Regions from separate parts of the Homo sapiens genome. Here region 1 is linked to region 2. A link means that fine-mapping ties the variant in region 2 to the expression of a gene that starts in the linked region. Tissue or cell type: anterior cingulate cortex. Region 2 holds a variant in brackets; the other region holds the start of a gene. All regions are shown on one strand. Distances are from middle to middle.

Evidence for each region. PIP is the estimated chance that this variant, and not a neighbour inherited with it, causes the effect.
Region 1: S100A10 starts here. The variant in region 2 is fine-mapped to the expression of S100A10 in anterior cingulate cortex (GTEx, PIP 0.92).

The regions. Positions count from the first base shown.
Region 1 is chr1:151,989,095-151,997,275 of GRCh38, reverse strand. S100A10 (S100 calcium binding protein A10) reads left to right here and starts at 3,417. Exons shown (of 3, transcript NM_002966.3): 1 at 3,417-3,524. RefSeq lists silencers at 2,990-3,119, 3,250-3,299, 3,310-3,609 and an enhancer at 4,178-5,377.
Region 2 is chr1:152,020,079-152,028,259 of GRCh38, reverse strand. LOC105371442 (a long non-coding RNA gene) reads left to right here and starts at 672. Exons shown (of 3, transcript XR_001738235.2): 1 at 672-769; 2 at 1,441-1,620. It also overlaps the pseudogene NBPF18P. The variant C/G (reference allele first, on the strand shown) is at 4,044.

The sequences.
Region 1 (8,181 bases), 31 kb after region 2:
TATCAATGATAAATTAACCTAGCCAGATGCAGTGGCTAATGCCTATAATCCCAACACTTTGGGAGGCCAAGATGGGTGAATCACATGAGGCCAAGAGTTCGAGACCAGCCCGGTCAACATGGTGAAACCTCATCTCTACTAAAAAAAACAAAAATTAGCCAGGCGCTGTGGGACATGCCTGTAATCCCAGGTACTCGAGTGGCTGAGGGACAAGAAGCACTTGAACCCGGGAGGCGGAGGTTGCAGTGAACAGAGATCACACTGCTATGCTCTAGCCTGGGCGACAGAGGGAGCCCCTGTCTCAAAAAACCAAAATAATAATAACAAATTAACCTTAGATTACTGTAAATTTACGTTATAAACTTGGAAATTCCTTTTTCTTTCCTTTTTCTTTTTTTTTTTTTTTTTGAAATGGAGTCTCACTCTGTCTCCAGGCTGGAGTGCACTGCCACAATCTCGGCTCACTGCAACCTCCGCCTCCCGGGTTCAAGCGATTCTCCTGCCTCAGCCTCCCAAGCAGCTGGGAGTACAGGTGCGTGCCACCACGCCCGGCTAGTTCTTTCTCTGTAAGATGGGGTTTCACCACGTTGGCCAGGATGGTCTTGACCTGTTGACCTCGTGATCCGCCCGCCTCGGCCTCCCAAAGTGCTGGGATTACAGGTGTGAGCTACCACGCCCAGCCTAACTTGTAAATTCTTTAAATGTTTGACTCTTTTGTAATAACACTTAGCTTAAAGCACACATTATACAACTGTAGAAAATATTTTCTTTCTTTATATCCTTCTTATGTAAGTTTTTTCTATTTTTAAAATTTTTATTTTTTTTTAAGTTTTTTGTTAAAAACTAAGACACACACACACAAAAAAAAAAAAAAAAACTAAGACACAAACACACGTATTAGCCTAGACCTGCACAGGGTCAGGATCATCAATATAACTGTCTTTCACTTCCACATCTGGTCCCACTGAAAGGTCTCCAGGGCAAAAACACACATCTCCTGTGATAACAATGACTTCTTCTGGAATACCCCCTGAAAGACCTGCCTGAGGCTGTTTTTTAAACTTTTTTTTAAGTTTTACTGTTTTTTTAATAAGTAGAAGGAATACACTCTAAAATAATGATGAAAAGTATAGTGTAGTAAATACATAATGCAGTAACAGTCATTTATTACCATTATCAAGTATTGCATACTACACATAATTGGTATGTGCTATATTTTTATACAACTGGCAGCACAGTAGTTTGTTTACACCAGCATCACCACAAACACATGAGTAAAGTATTGCGCTAGACAGCTACAAGGTCACTAGGCAACTGGAATTTTTTTAGCTCTATTATAATCTTATGGAACCACTGCTGAATACATGATCCATCGTTGGCTCAAACACTGTTATGCAGTGAATGACTGTACTTAATTTTATAATCAGTATGATCACAATTATGCAAATATTTGTTACATATGCATAAAAAGACTAGAAATATGAAAATGTTTATCTTTGGCTCATGTATTTATAAATCATTTTTTATACATTGATATATTTTCCAAGCCTTCTAAGAATGGAATCTTTGTACAGATTAAAAAGTTACAATAAGTGTTATTGTTGTTTTTAAATTTCTACCCAATGTTGCTTCCTGCAGAAATTATTCTGTGACCACTCCAAGAGGACTTGGAAGCCCCTCCTCAGTGTTCTCCTAGTATCCAATAGTATCCTCTACCATTCACTAAGCACACTGGATTTTAATTGTTTGCTTATCTAACGCCCAATACTTGGAACTCTTCAGAGAAAGAGACTGATTCTCTAATCCCTGAATTCCCAGGCCTACCACATACACTAAAGCACTCCTAAGGTCTGTGGACCAGATGAAGAAATCAGATGAGTAGGGGTACGCAAACCCAGGCATTCCCATTCTAAACCCAGTCGCATTGCAATCCCTGCAACAAAAGGGATCCGAGATTTCCTCCACTGGTGACTGTGACCTGGGGACTGGGAAGTACTGTATACAGGAAGATCTTGAAGAGCTGTCCCCTTGAATAGTCAGCACCAGGGTTGCACGGAAAGTAATAGCTGAAATCCAAGTTGGGTTTTCCTGGCAACAGCCAATATTAGTCAGAGGTGGCACTTGGAGGATTCCCCAGGTCTGCTCATTCCTTTAGGATCATTCATTCCTCCCAAGGCCTCCCTTGGGAACAAAGGAAAACCCCAGAGTTTGGGATTGGGCTCTTTTCCACCAACAGCTGCTAGTAGTTTGTATTTAACCCTGAGTCACAATTAAAATAAAAGAGGGCGGGCGGGGGAGGGGCGAGGAGTTGGTAAGCATCCCCTAGGAAACACTTAGGTTTTCTCTAAATTTATTCCAGAAAATTCTTCTAAAGGACTTTTCAAGGACCACAGCATACTGCCTTGGAAACTTAGTTTTTAACCTTTTTCTTTTCTTTTTTTCTTTTTTCTTTTTTTTTTTTTTTTTTGAGACAGAGTCTCACTCTGTCACCCAGGCTGGAGTGCAGTGGTGCGATCTCGGCTCACTGCAACCTCTGTCTCCCAGGTTCAAGCGATTCTCATGCCTCAGTCTCCTGGGATTACAGGCGCGCATCACCACTCCCGGCTAATTTTTGTATCAGTAGAGACAAGGTTTCACCATGTTGGCTAAGCTGGTGTTGAACTCCTGACCTGAGGTGATCCGCCCGCCTCGGCCTCCCAAAGTGTTGGGATTACAGGCGTGAGCCACCGCGCCCGGCCAGTTTTTAACACTATTAGCCACACTGAAACTGAACTATTGATCAAGTGACGCCACACAAAGGGGTAAATCCCCTGTTCAACAAAGGGTTTGTGACGCCCCTGGGTGCTGACAAGCCAAACCGCACCCTCCCTGCGGCACCTCGCGGGCCGGTGGGGCGGGAAGCCCGGCTTCTGGGGAGGTGCCGCCCCTCCACTGGCGCAGGCCGCCGAGACCCCCAGACGGACCTCCTAGGGCTAATCTGATAGTGCCTCTGAGGTCGATAGGACTCCACGTGCCACTCCCTGCAGGGTCATCCAGCAAGTAATTCCTAGACCCGTAGGTGGCCGCAGAGCCGGTTACCTCTGGTTCTGCGCCAGCGTGCCCCACCCGCAGGACGGCCGGGTTCTTTGATTTGTACACTTTCTAAAACCAAACCCGAGAGGAAGGGCAGGCTCAGGGTGGGGATGCCCTGAAATATTCGAGAGCAGGACCGTTTCTACTGAAGAGAAGTTTACAAGAACGCTCTGTCTGGGGCGGGCGAGGCCTCTGCGAGGCGGGTCCGGGAGCGAGGGCAGGGCGTGGGCCGCGCGCCCGGGGTCGGGGGAGTCGGGGGCAGGAAGAGGGGGAGGAGACAGGGCTGGGGGAGCGCCCTGCCGAGCGCCCGCCAGGCTCCTCCCGCTCCCGCGCCGCCTCCCTCTACCCACCCGCCGCACGTACTAAGGAAGGCGCACAGCCCGCCGCGCTCGCCTCTCCGCCCCGCGTCCAGCTCGCCCAGCTCGCCCAGCGTCCGCCGCGCCTCGGCCAAGGTGAGCTCCGCCCGGCCCACGCGCCCCTCCTGGGTAGTCCCCAGGCCCGGACCTGCTGCCCGGGGAAAACCCTGCACCCGGCTTCGCGGGGCGTCCGGAGCACCGCGGGGCTGGGCGGGGAGCGGCTGGTGGGGAATCCGCTGCTCAGTGCTCCGGGCCACACCCAAACGAGGCCAGCAGCGCCCCTCCCCGGCCCGGGCGCGGCCGCCCCCAGACCCACGCGGACCAGAGGAGGGGGCACTTGTTCTTTAGGAGGGGACCGTGGTATTGGTGCGCCTGAACCTCTTCCCTCCTCCCTTTATGTTTGCGTTGCTTTACTCCCACCTTTCCTACTTTCCCACTCGTCTCTCGGGTTACCGAATCCCTCCTACACGCCCCTGCCCTGGCTGGCGTGTTTCTTGGTGGGTTCCGCTCGCAGGCCGGGTCTGCATGTTCGTAGCCTGCTCCCGGCTGTACCGCCCAAGTAGGCGCGGGTAGGACGAGTAGGCAGCTGGGGCGTCCCTTCCGTAACCCTTAGTCCGTCGGCCAAACAGGCGTTTCTGGTCGGGGCTTCCTGTTGTCTGCTCGACGGAAAGGGTCTTCCTGCTGAGGGAGGGAGGTCCACTTGTTTTCTTTCTACAGCAGTTTGGCTGGGGTTTGTGGGAGAGGGCCCTGTGTGACGTGGTTTCTCTACTGAAAGGGTTCCCTTGCTGTCTTAATAAGTGGAACCAGAAAGAGATGGAGGAAGAGCAGGCTTGATGAAGGATCTTCCAATCATAGATTAATTTGGCCCGGTGCAGTGAAACAGACAGACGTGCCTTTGGTACTTGGTTCACCACCTGTGCTTTGGCCGAAGGAATGGCGCTGCCCCTAGCCGTGGACACTGCTGCCTGTCCAGCCTCAGTCCAGCTCTGCCTAAGTGAAACCAGGAGCTCTGCCTTGTTGGCTGGGGTGGAATGCAGAGCGCTCCAAGCCAGGCCAGCACAGGGGAGCCCTAAGCCAGATTCTGGGATGCATTAAGCCCACCCCGTTTTCTGCCCCCACCCAGTTCCGTCTCTGCGGGAGCTTCTGCAGGGCGTGGTTAGCACAAAGGGCTCCAGGATTCTCCCAGTGGTCTGAGGCCTGTGACTCAGCTGTGAGACCATGTGGGTGTGGCCGGTTGCAGATACTCTCGGTGGATGGTTTGGACAGAACACTCCCTGAAGGAAAAGGAGAACTGTGCCATCTCAGAGGGCATTTTCCAAGAGGAAGTGAGTCACACCTGGTCTGGCTGCCAGTCTGCAGGAGAGGTTTCTCGACTGAACTGCCGGTGAGGGCAGTAATTAGATCTGCAGGGCCTTGGCGAGACCGCTTTTCGTTATCGGCCAGTATGCGCCTGGCAGCCTGCCTCAGCCTTACTTGGGAGGTAGCTTTTCCCGCTAAGAGGTTTGCAGTTGTTGCGGATATTTTTCCCCAGAAGCTTGAGTTTCAGTCTCCAGGAATGGAGTTTTATGTTGTGCGTTTTAGGTGAGGCCAGGCTCATGGAAACACCCAGTCGGTGATCTTTGCCTCCAACATGTTTCAGCAAATTGCAAAAGATAATGCCAGGGGTTGGAGTGGGAATGAGTTCATATAACTTATTGGAAGTTTCTTCATCGGCCCTGCCCCCACAGATTCCTATCCAGTTTCTCTTTAATCATCCCTTCCAAATGGTGTATTTGTTCCTTCACAGCCAGAGGATAGTTTCTTCACTGTGGCCCTTGATCCACCATTTGGAGTTTCTTATCTAGGTTCTTACAATTTTTTTGGTCTACTGGGCATGAAGCAATTTTTGGGTCTTACCCTGCTTTCTGGGTGATGCTCTTCCTAGCTTTTCTCCGACACATCATATAGGCCCCTTTCCTCCCGTGTGCTGGCCAGCCTCCTAAGCAGCCACTCCAGTGAGGTCAGGGTGGAGCTGAGACTGTGTGCCTCCCTGCTTTCTACTGACAGTTCAAAAAATGTGACTTTTGTAGAGCACAACCCACTTGGTATACCCTTGGACACAGTCCAGTCTTTTAAAGCGTAAAGTTGAGAGAAACAATGGAATTCTTTCAGGATTATAATGTATAAATTAGCACTCAAAGTGCTGAGAAAGCTGGACTAAAATTTTAACATCTTAAGTTTCTCATTTTTCTGGGGACTCAACAAATTTAGGAATCCACATCAAAAGCAAAAAGAAAGAATGTACTTCTTTTAAACAATTTTCAGCACTTTCTATCCCTTTACTAAATAAATACCACCCATCCTACCAAAGGATTTAACTAAAAGCAGTTTTGACAGTAGCTATGTTGGCTGATTAGGCTGATGCCTAAGCATTCTTTAAGGAAAAATTGATGTAGTTGGTTAGATTGAAGGAGGTTTCTTCCAAGTTCTTTCTTCCTATTGAATTGCATCTGAAACGTTCCTTTGCTGCCCAGTTCTTTAGTGGGCAAGTTTTAGTTGGTGAGAGGTGAGAGAGACAGCCTGGATCCAGATCCATTGCTTCAACTCATTTTTTCTGAATTCCCTTCAGAGATCAAATTTAAGAATGCCTTCTGGGTTCAATTTTAAAAACTCCAAAATTTCTAAAGCAAAAGGAAGGAAACCTCAAACATATTTTAAATAACAGATGTTTGTTTTTACTGACACCCTGCCGTTTATTTTCTGGGTGGGCTGTAAGAAAACTAGGGTATGGACAAGACACAGAGGAGCAAAGCAAGTCCGACTCACTCTGCAGAAGTGTCCTCTTTGAAACTGCAGCCGGGATCTGGGCATAGGTCCAAAGCAAACATTTGAGATTTTTCAGGAGCAGACACTTTTCTGAGGAGGACTCCTGCTTGTCTGCTACTCGCAGGACAACCAAAATACATCATTATCAATTTCTTAACAATTCATCGAGCAGGCTCTATGAGGGCTGGGGCACTGGCTATTGGGACCCTGCTCAAAAAACCTGCAACCTAGTGAGGAAAGAAACAGAAACACAAATAACTAGAATTCAGGCCAAATGCTTTAATAGTATTCCATTAGCTGGTGAACTCCTCAAAGGCAAGCACCATGGAGAGCTTTGTGTGTGTGTGCATGTGTGTATGTGTGTGTGAACACCCTCATGCCTAACACCATGTCTGGGACATTCAAAGTAGGTGCTCAGGGAGGGAGAACCAAAAATGGAAAATTGAATTCCTCCTAAGGTAACTAAATTTGTGGAGTCCAGAATTGTTTTCCATAGAGAAAACTATGCAGAGAAAGATGTCTCCGCCTCCCTTCTTAAGACCTGTTGCTCAGACAAACATGTAGAGGGCATGTATAGGCATCAGATTAGAATACTTCAATAAAAGGTGAGTGGACAGCAAGGCTGTTATTATCCTGTGGAGCTCAGCAGTGAGATAGCAGCACTAGAAAAGCAAAAAGTAGAAGATGGGATGAATGAAACACGAGAAAATAGCAAGTGTTAGAAGAGAAGGAGCACAGTCATGTCATTCTGACTAGACCTGTTTAGCAGGACACATATTTTTCCTTTTGCGTATGGAATGTGCACTCCTGTGTACTCTATCTACTGTTCCGTTCATAGTTGAACACTTTTGGGGCCCCTTTCCTGGCCCTTCCCAGCTCTCACATCGTCCTCCTGAGCTCTGAGCTACAAGGCTTTCAGCCTAGTCCTGGGTAATCACACCTGCACCTCAGCTACTGCCCAAGGGATTGTGTGGTTCATTTATGCACATAACAGTTATATAGTGCTCCATGAATAAAAGCAGAATAATTTGTAGTTCTTAATCAAGAGAAGCTTAAATCTCAGGCAGACAAGTAAACAATTAAATGAAATTGAATGTTTCAGGTGCAAGAGTACGTTATTGGGGATAGAGAGGACACTGCAGCCCCTCAGCCCCAGCCCCAAGGCCCTCCTGTCAAAATGTGTCTAACCAGGATGCAGGAAGCCCACATCTGTCCAGGAATAGAGCTTGCAGAGTGGCTACGTGAGGGTGGAAATGCCAGATTGAAGTCCCTGAAGAACTTCAGTTTTGGCAGCTAGCAGTGCTGCAGACAGCCCTGCCCAGGCAAGCCCCACCCAAGAACGGAGGGCCAGGCAGGGCTGACTCAGTTGGGCAACCATTGGCTGCACTCAGACAAGAGTTACATGATTCATCCTCTAGCCAAGAGAACAGAGTTTTAATCACAACATTTCCCCCTTTCCTTTGTCTTATTTTAAAGCCAGTGTGCAACTCCTTCCCCAAAACAGAGTTCCTTGCTGTGGCCCTGGTCAGTGCCCTTTGGGGTACTGGTTGCTGAGGAGACAAGGGCTTCTCCACTGATTTTCAATGCTATTTTCACCTCCTGGCTACTCCCTCCTCTGCATCCTTATTGCAGAAGGCCTACTGGACACACAGGGAGTCAGCTGGCTGCAATATTCACAATCCATCCACTGAATAAAACCGCTGGGGGAGGAGGGGAGGGGAAGACCAAGTGGGAGAAGGATGTAACTTCAGAGAAGGAAGCTCCGTCACTTCGTAATGGCTGTGGGCAAGAGAGGCATGCGACTGAGTGACTTCAGACCTAAGCACTCACACAGTGTGAGGTAGACTCACCTTGCTCTCCTGAAGAAGATACTCAAGGGTGGCCAGGATTTCCTCAGCTGACAACTTGTATTTCTTAGAACCTCCTAAAATTAGCCTTTTTAAAATTT
Region 2 (8,181 bases):
AAAGTTCTGGAATTACAGGCATGAGCCACCGTGCCCGGCCCGATTTCTTGGTAAAGTAGCAAATAGACCAGTAGGGTGCCTGATATTTTTCCATCTCTTCCCTAGCTCACTGTTTTTTGGGGATAGTGACACTTTTTAAAAAAAAATACAGGGTGCACCTGCTAAAGGAATAATATGGAGACTTAATGACTACTGATTTTTTCCTTCTTGTGCCACTAATGAATTAAGGGACACATCTGAGAGGTAGCTACAATTGTACTAAAATCCACTGTGAGTGTGATTTATGCAAGAAAGATAATATAGCAAAATTTTGATAAATATACATGTTTTAAGTTAAAGCAAATATTTTAAATATCCTTTTTATAAATATCCATTTTCACCAATTTTTTTAAGTTAGCCAAACCAACTACAGGTCCCTACCCTTTAGAAAAGAGGACCTCTACCATTTTGCAATAAACTCTCTTAAGCTTCTCCCTGTCCAGTTGGACCTCTTCCATCCCTTTCTCCACCGTGTGATCAAAGAGAGTTTTTAAAGGCAAATGTTCTGGTATCGCTCCCATGTGTAAAACCAGGCATTGGACCTTCTGAATATACAGGATTCCCTGGAGCACTCAAGAGCCTTTGTGGTCTGCTCCCTGCCCACCTTGCCAACCAAGGCTAGAACTGATGTCACAGTGATGTGCCTCTTTGCTTTGACACACGCTCTTCTTGCTGCCCTGAAAGGCCTTGGCCGCCTTTCCACCTGTTTCTACTTGCCCTGTAGAGCAGTGTAAGTATCATCTCCCCAAGAAGGCCTTTCCTAAGACCCCTATCCAAAGCTGATTTTAATGCTCTTATTCTATGCTCCAGAGCACTCCATTCTTGCCTCTATCATAGCACTTGCCACTCTACTTACAGTGTTCTTACTTGTCTGTCTTTTCTAACTTGACTTTGAGCTCAAGAACAGAGACCTAATTAAAGGCATCTTTGTATTGCTAGGACTTAATGTGGTACCCAGCATATAGTAGCAAAAAAAAATTGTTGAATGAAAAAAATATATGATACATGAATAAGCGATAAGAGAATGCTATACCAGATGTGGGACATACCATGTATATCAGTCTGGGTTCCCACAGGAAACACATGCACACTCAAACGGGTCACTGAAGAGAATTTAAGGAATGCACTATTTATGAAGATGTAAGAGATAAGATAAATAACAAGAGATGGCAAAGCACCAGGACTAGCAAAATTAGGATGCTGTTCCCACCTCTCAGCCTGACTGGCAAGGGAGAAATTATTGGAATTCAAGAGCCATATAGCCCAGGAAGAGGGGCCACTCACGGATGCTGTGGCCTTAGATGTAGAAATACAGCCACTGTCAAACCACAGCCTGGCAGGAGGGACCCCGGGGAATAAATATTGATTTCTCTCTCTTCCCACCTTCTGATCGCCTGCAAGTGCCTCCTGTTGGTCCACCCTACTGGAAGTCTGAGCTGGGCAGAGAAGCACCAAAAGTGGAGCTGGAGGAGCAAACAGAATATCCAGCACACTGCAGAAAGCTGAGATTGGTATTCTTCTACCGCATGGCTACTCCTGCCACCAAGGGGAACACAGAGTAAAGTGACAACACTAATTCAGGTAGACTTTTTTTGTGTGTGTATTTTCTTGAGTTATTGAAAATTTTAAATTTTTTTATTATGGTTAAATATACAGAACATAAAAATTTAACACTGTTACCATTTTTTAAGTGTACATTTTAGTAGCATTAAGTATATTCACATTGTATAAACATCACCACCAATACCTCCATAACGTTTCCATCTTCCCAAACTGAAAGTCTGCATCCATTAAACAATAACTTCCCTCTCTCCCCTCACCTACCTCCTGGTCACCATCATTCTACTTTCTGTCTCTATTCATCTGACTACTCTAGGTACCTCCTGTCAGTGGAATTATACAACATTTGTCTTTTTGTGTCTGACTTATTTCACTTAGCATAATGTCTTCAAGATTCATTTATGTTGTTGCATATGTCAAAATTTCCTTCCATTTCAGGGCTGAATAATAGTCCATTGTGTGTATATTTGTGTGTATGTGTGTGTGTGTGCCACATTTTGTTTATCCATTCATCTATTGATGGACACTTGGGTTGCTTCCACCTTTTGTTATTGTGCATAGTGCTACAATGAATGCAGGTGTATAAATAATGATTTAAGTCTCCGGGAATACAACCCAGAAATAGAATTGCTGGATCATATGGTAATTCTATTTTTAGTTTTTGAGGAACCACCATACATCTTTCCACAGTGGCAGCACCACTTTATATTCCCACCAGCAATGCTTACAAGGTTTCCAAAGTCTCCACATACTCACCAACACTTGCTATTTTCTTCTTTTTAAAATAATAGCCATCCTAATGAATGTGAAATAGTATCTCATTTTGGTTTCCTTTCACATTTTCCTAAAGATTGGTGATGTTAAGCATCTTTTCAATGTGCTTATTGGCCATTTGTATATCTTCTTTGGAAAAATGTCTATTTGATTCTTTTGCCCATTTTGTATTGGGTTGTTTGGTTTTTGTTGAGTTGTAGGAGTTCTTTTTATATTCTGGGTATTAAGCCCTTATTAGATATGTGATTTGCAAATATTTTCTACCATTCTGTGGGTCGCCTTTTCACTCTATTCATAGTGTCCTTTGATGCACAAAAGTTTTTCGTTGTGATGAAGTCCAATTTATATGTTTTTTTCTTACATTTCCTGTGGCTTTGGTGTCATATCCAAGAAATCATAGCTAAATCCAATGTACATTTTTTTAATGAAGAAAAACAAGAAGAAAAAAATCAAGCAAATATCTATCTCTTTTGATGGAGATTTGGGCCATGGTGGTAGGACTTCTGCCAAAATTTAGTATGCAGCAGATATAGAAAGCCCCTTTCCTACCGCAAATAATGCTGGATAACATAGAATCTTCCCCTTCCCCTCAAAAAGTTAAAATACTTGGTCAATTAAAAGGCAGAAAGAGAATTATTCAGGTGCCGGAAGCACAAAGGGAACTGATAGCTGTCACGGTGCCCCAGAGCGGAGGCCACGTGGCCCAGGCCATGGTGGAGAACTAGAACTGAACTCTTAGTGAAAAGAGAGAGCTGCTAAAGAGCTGCCCTGTCACTGATGGAGACTGGAAAGCTCAGTCCACCACCTCTCAAGACACAGAATGAGCCCTGGAGCGAGGCAAAGTCATCTGAGAGAAATCAGAGCACTGCACCTGTGTTCCCAGAAGGCATGGGGTTCAAACACATGCTATTAAAGAAATAAAACAAAAACTACCCCAGAGTTGTAAGCGCCATAAAACCCTAGACAAATGCAAAACCACCTCGTGGAGATGCCTCCAGACATTTGGAGGATGTCCACAGGAGATAAATACACTTAGAATAGGCTCACAGGCACACGAGGGATGACAAGTACATACAACAGACTAGAGACTTCACACTGAGTAACAAGAGGGAGAGCAATCTGGAAGGATGTTAGCATGAGTGTGTTTAAAATGGTCAAATAAATCAATAGATCAAATGCATAAAACAAGAACAAAAGTATATATATATAAAAAAAGAACCAAGTGTATAATTGAAATATACAGCCGTGCAAATGGACCCTGAAGCTGGGCATTCCACCACCAATTTGTGACCCAGCTCCGGCTATAGGGGAGAGGATCCCTCCCTGCCCCCCTGCACCTCAGGAAGACTTCATTGACTCACTGCACCCACCCACCTTACAATGACCCTATTGTACCATCCAGCAACCTGGTGAGAGATGTGTTGGGAATTCAGGCAGAGAGACTGAGAGGACCACACCTGTGCAGCAACCGTGATAATTCATGCTTTGTTTCTTGGCCCTCCCTAATCTCCTAAATCTCTCCCAGTCACCACCAAGAAAGAAGACTGGGAGGGAGAGGCAAGTCTGCACTGGCCGCAAACTGGATTCTGAGTGATTTGAGCTGCCTGTAAAGTTAGACAGTGGGGGCAGAGAGAAGCATCAGTAGTCCTGGTTCCCGGCCCCACCTCTCT[C/G]CACCGAGAAAAACGTTTCTGTTACCAGATTCATATTTTACCCTCACAATGACTTAGTGTCAACATTATCATTAAACATGATCCGCAGAGTCACTAGGGATTCTGGTAGGAATGCAAGCAAAGACAATGACTCCGGAAAGTTGCAAGTCCAGTCTGTAAAGAGACTAACTTCTGGCAAGGGAAGAAACACAAATCTGAAAGTTGGGAAAAGTGTAATTATCACATAGGAAGCAAAGGTTGCTTCATAAATGCTAGCTCACCGTTCTCCTCATCTCCTCACTACTAAGCATCCTCAGCTCCCTGCAACAAGGCTGCTTTCTCCTCCCCATTGCTGAAATTGCTTTCCCCAGAATCAAACAAGTCCTTACCTACCATATAGCCAAATCCAGCAGGCTATTCTCAGCCTTCATTGTCCTTGATGCTTAGCACTGGTAGATGTGGTTGACGGCCCCACCCTCTTGATGCCTGCAGAGGTGGGCTCCATGTGGCAATGAACTGAGGATTGCTCACAATGGAGCCCCTAGCCCAGAGCAGGGCCTGGCACCTAATAGGCACCCTGTGAATGCTCAGTGAAAGAAGGCATCCACTGCAAGGTCCTGGGGAACAAGGAATTCCAATGTGGCCCATATATTTTAAGTCATAGAGGATCCTAGATGTAAAAGGCCTTCAAAAGTGGCCACTCTTTTAAAGCATTATACTGGCAGCTGAGCCATGTTTCCCCATCATGGACACATCTAGAGGGCACTGCCTAAAACCATACACATCTACGCCCCTCCCCAGGAATGTGCAGGGGACTTAGCCTGGGGCATATGGGTGGGCAGAGGGGGGTGAACGATGAAAGCTGAAGAAAAGAAAACAGGTGGAAGGGGCCAGCAGGGTGGGAACAGAGAGAAAAAACAAAGCGGGGCAGGGAACGGAGGGCAGATGGGAGAAGAGAGAGAGAGATACAGATCTAGCCACTGAGGAAAAGGTCAGAAGAGAACACTGTCCTCTACTGAAGTAAAATGACTTCCACCTGACCATGGCACTGCAGGTCGTGGGCAGCACACGCTGGTCATGCTGCGATGTTTAGGACCCATGGCATCTTCCCTTCAAATCCAAATCATAATAGAGAGAGGACTCTGTCCTCATTGAGCCGGCAATATCATGGGATATTGATGCAATATGTATATTGCATAGATATATGCAATATACATATCTGTATGATCATTTCATCAATTCCTTCTCTTCAGGCTTCGCACCTCCCTGATGAGCCAGGTGACACAGACATAACAGAAGATTAAACAGAGAGGGATTGGACCTCAGGGAGTCCTAGCTAGTTTTGACAGGAAGCATAAGAGAGTGGTCCCAGAAAGCAAACAGGAGGTTCCCTTTAAGAGGGAACAGGCACTCCTCCACTCTCTGCAACAGAGCATGGCTGCTATGGGAGCCAAAGAGGAAGACAGCAGCTGGTGTTCATTGCACTGGGCAGATAGGAGCTGAGGAGGATGGAGACTCAGCTATCCCTGTATGGTACAGACATGACACTCAGCACACACAGAGAACCATAACAGCTGCCACACCCTGTGTCTAAGCTGGGTTGAATTTAACATATTGTGGCCAGGGGAATGCAGGCTTTTGGCCCAATGTAGACGCCAGAGAGAGTGTGCCTCCTAGATCTTTTTCATATGTTACCACCCATTATTGCTCCTGATTATTCAGTGTTACCTGGGGGCACGTGATTCCCGCACTTTCTCAGCCTCCTCAACGTAAACATCGTCATCCACATCTTCATCATTTTCTGTAAATACAGGAATGTTCATTCAGATATTTCTCACTTCACATTCTGCAAGCATAGTCAGCCCAATGTGTGCAGACACATGAACATCTAGGCATGGGTCACCATTCAACTGAAAGCTCTCATGTTTTATCTTTAACAAAATGCCCTGGCACAGTTTCCTAATCCATCAGGCAATGCATTTCTGATCTGGAGGGCCACCATCAAGATGTGGCCAAATATTGAAAACATCTTTTGGTCCCCATATCCCTGGAGACTTGTCCAGCCTCTCTCTGGACTTTGGCAGCTGTCTCCGCCATCCTGCCACAGATCTGATTCCCAGGCACAGGCTTGGTGTCCTGTCACAGTTCACATTTCGAAACTAATTCTTTCTCTTAGGAGAGGACAAACTTGTCCCACAGTCCTCTGTCCATCAGGGGACTTCACAGGCCCACCAAGTGGCTTCTGCTGTGTTATTCAGGGACATTCTCTCCATGGAGAGTACTCCAGTCTGAAGCACTCCTACCACCAAATGCCCCCACATCAAGTGCCTTCTCCAACACCACACGGCAAGGAGCTTCATCTCATTTTGAAAAGCAGTCGTTAAGTGTTCCCACATTTGAATGCTAAAGACACTTGCAAGAGACAATTTGCCGGCCTTTGCAGATGGAGAGAGAGAAACCCAGGAAGGATAAATCAATCACTCACCGACAGTTACGAAGGACGTTGCTGAAGATAGAGCCTGGGAACCTCCATGCTTAGTCCAGAGCTCTTTTCACTCTAACAAGCGCCCTCCTGTCACAGCCTCCTTCTTGTCCTTTAAAACTGGAGAGATGCTGCCTCCTGTTCCAAAGACCACCTTCCATCAAGGAAGGAGGGACATTTACAATACTGTGACCACCAATCCCATGGGTTTCCCATCTCTGTTGTTACCCAGGAAGTCCTGGTCATGTCATGGCCACATATGTTTAGTGGAAAAAAACACCACCAATACAACTGTCATTGTGGAGGTATGGAGGTCTGGAGTCTCTCATAAGCCTGGGGTTTTGTGTCATCAGGGCCTGTGGCCACCTTACCTGGGCTGAGTTTGTGGATGAGGTTCTCTGTCAGCCTGCAGCCCTCAGCCAGCTGCTCTCAGATATCCTGCCCCTGGGAGTTGTCAGGCTCATCCGGAGTGAGGAGGGCCTGGAGATGCTGATTCAATGAGCGGGAGGCATCTCTCCCTTCCTGTAATCTCTTCCTTAACCAGGCCAGCTCTCGTGCCTGAGAGTGAACTAGGACTTTATATTGCCTAAGGTGAGACAGTAGAGAAAATTTAATAATGGAAAGGGATGAGTGATCAGTTCTAATATTGCAACAGAGATCTCTGAGACAATGTCCTCAAGGAGACCTCCAAGCAGAAGGTCAGCACATGTTTGGGGAAATGCCTGTGGCCAAGACAAAAAGAATTTTTTTTACAGGCTTCCTCTATATCAGAGAGTGCAACTGAAATATCCTCGACAATGTTGCATTCATATTTCTCTTCTGTAAACAAAAGTAGGTCTTTCTAAATCAGTTTCAAAAAGACATCCTTTCAATTCCTCACTTTGGCCATCGACATTTCCATGTGAAAATACACATAAGGTATTTTGTGGTGACTAGATACAAAGCCAGGTACAGAAATGAGGCTAGGTGCAGATGGGGCAAATTGAAAAGACGAAAGAAGAAAAGAATGACAGGGTCGAGAAGGCAACACTGATTGAGTGAAAGAATGAGAAGCCGCAGTCCGTCAGGAGGTGATTCTGACTAAGGGTAAGTGGGGTGATGATGGCACACCATTTTGAGTATACTGAATGCTGCTGGGTGGTTTCCACTCCTTTGGTTAATTTTGCATTATGCAAGTTTCACCTCAACAGTTACTTGTTTGAAAAAGAGAAAACAAGGTTCTGAGAAACAACTGCAACTCATAACTTATTATTATCCTTGTTCTCTGTTTGATAAATATTTGGGTGTCGTGAGCCTGCCATGGCAATTCCTGCCCTTCCCCTGGCCCAGCTTAGCTCTTATTTCTCCCGGCTGAGCTGCTGTACTTCAGAGATTCACATACCTGCCCACCTGCCTGCCCCCACGGGGCCGCCTCACCTGAGCTCCTCAGCTTGCCCAAGCTGCTCTGCAAGCTTCTCGTCCTTGAATTGCAGCTCATCCCTCAGCATAGATTTTATGAGGTCTTTGAATTCTTCATACTCTGAGAAAAGACAGACGCGCCTGCCTCAGTGGAAGGCTAGACATGCTGCTGTGGTCATTGCCTACAGGGCAGGAGACAGGTCCATCCCAAGGACAAAACTGTCCCCAGTACCAGGCTCTAGGCAGGGATTTCCATATTTTTACTCTTTGGTCTCCCAA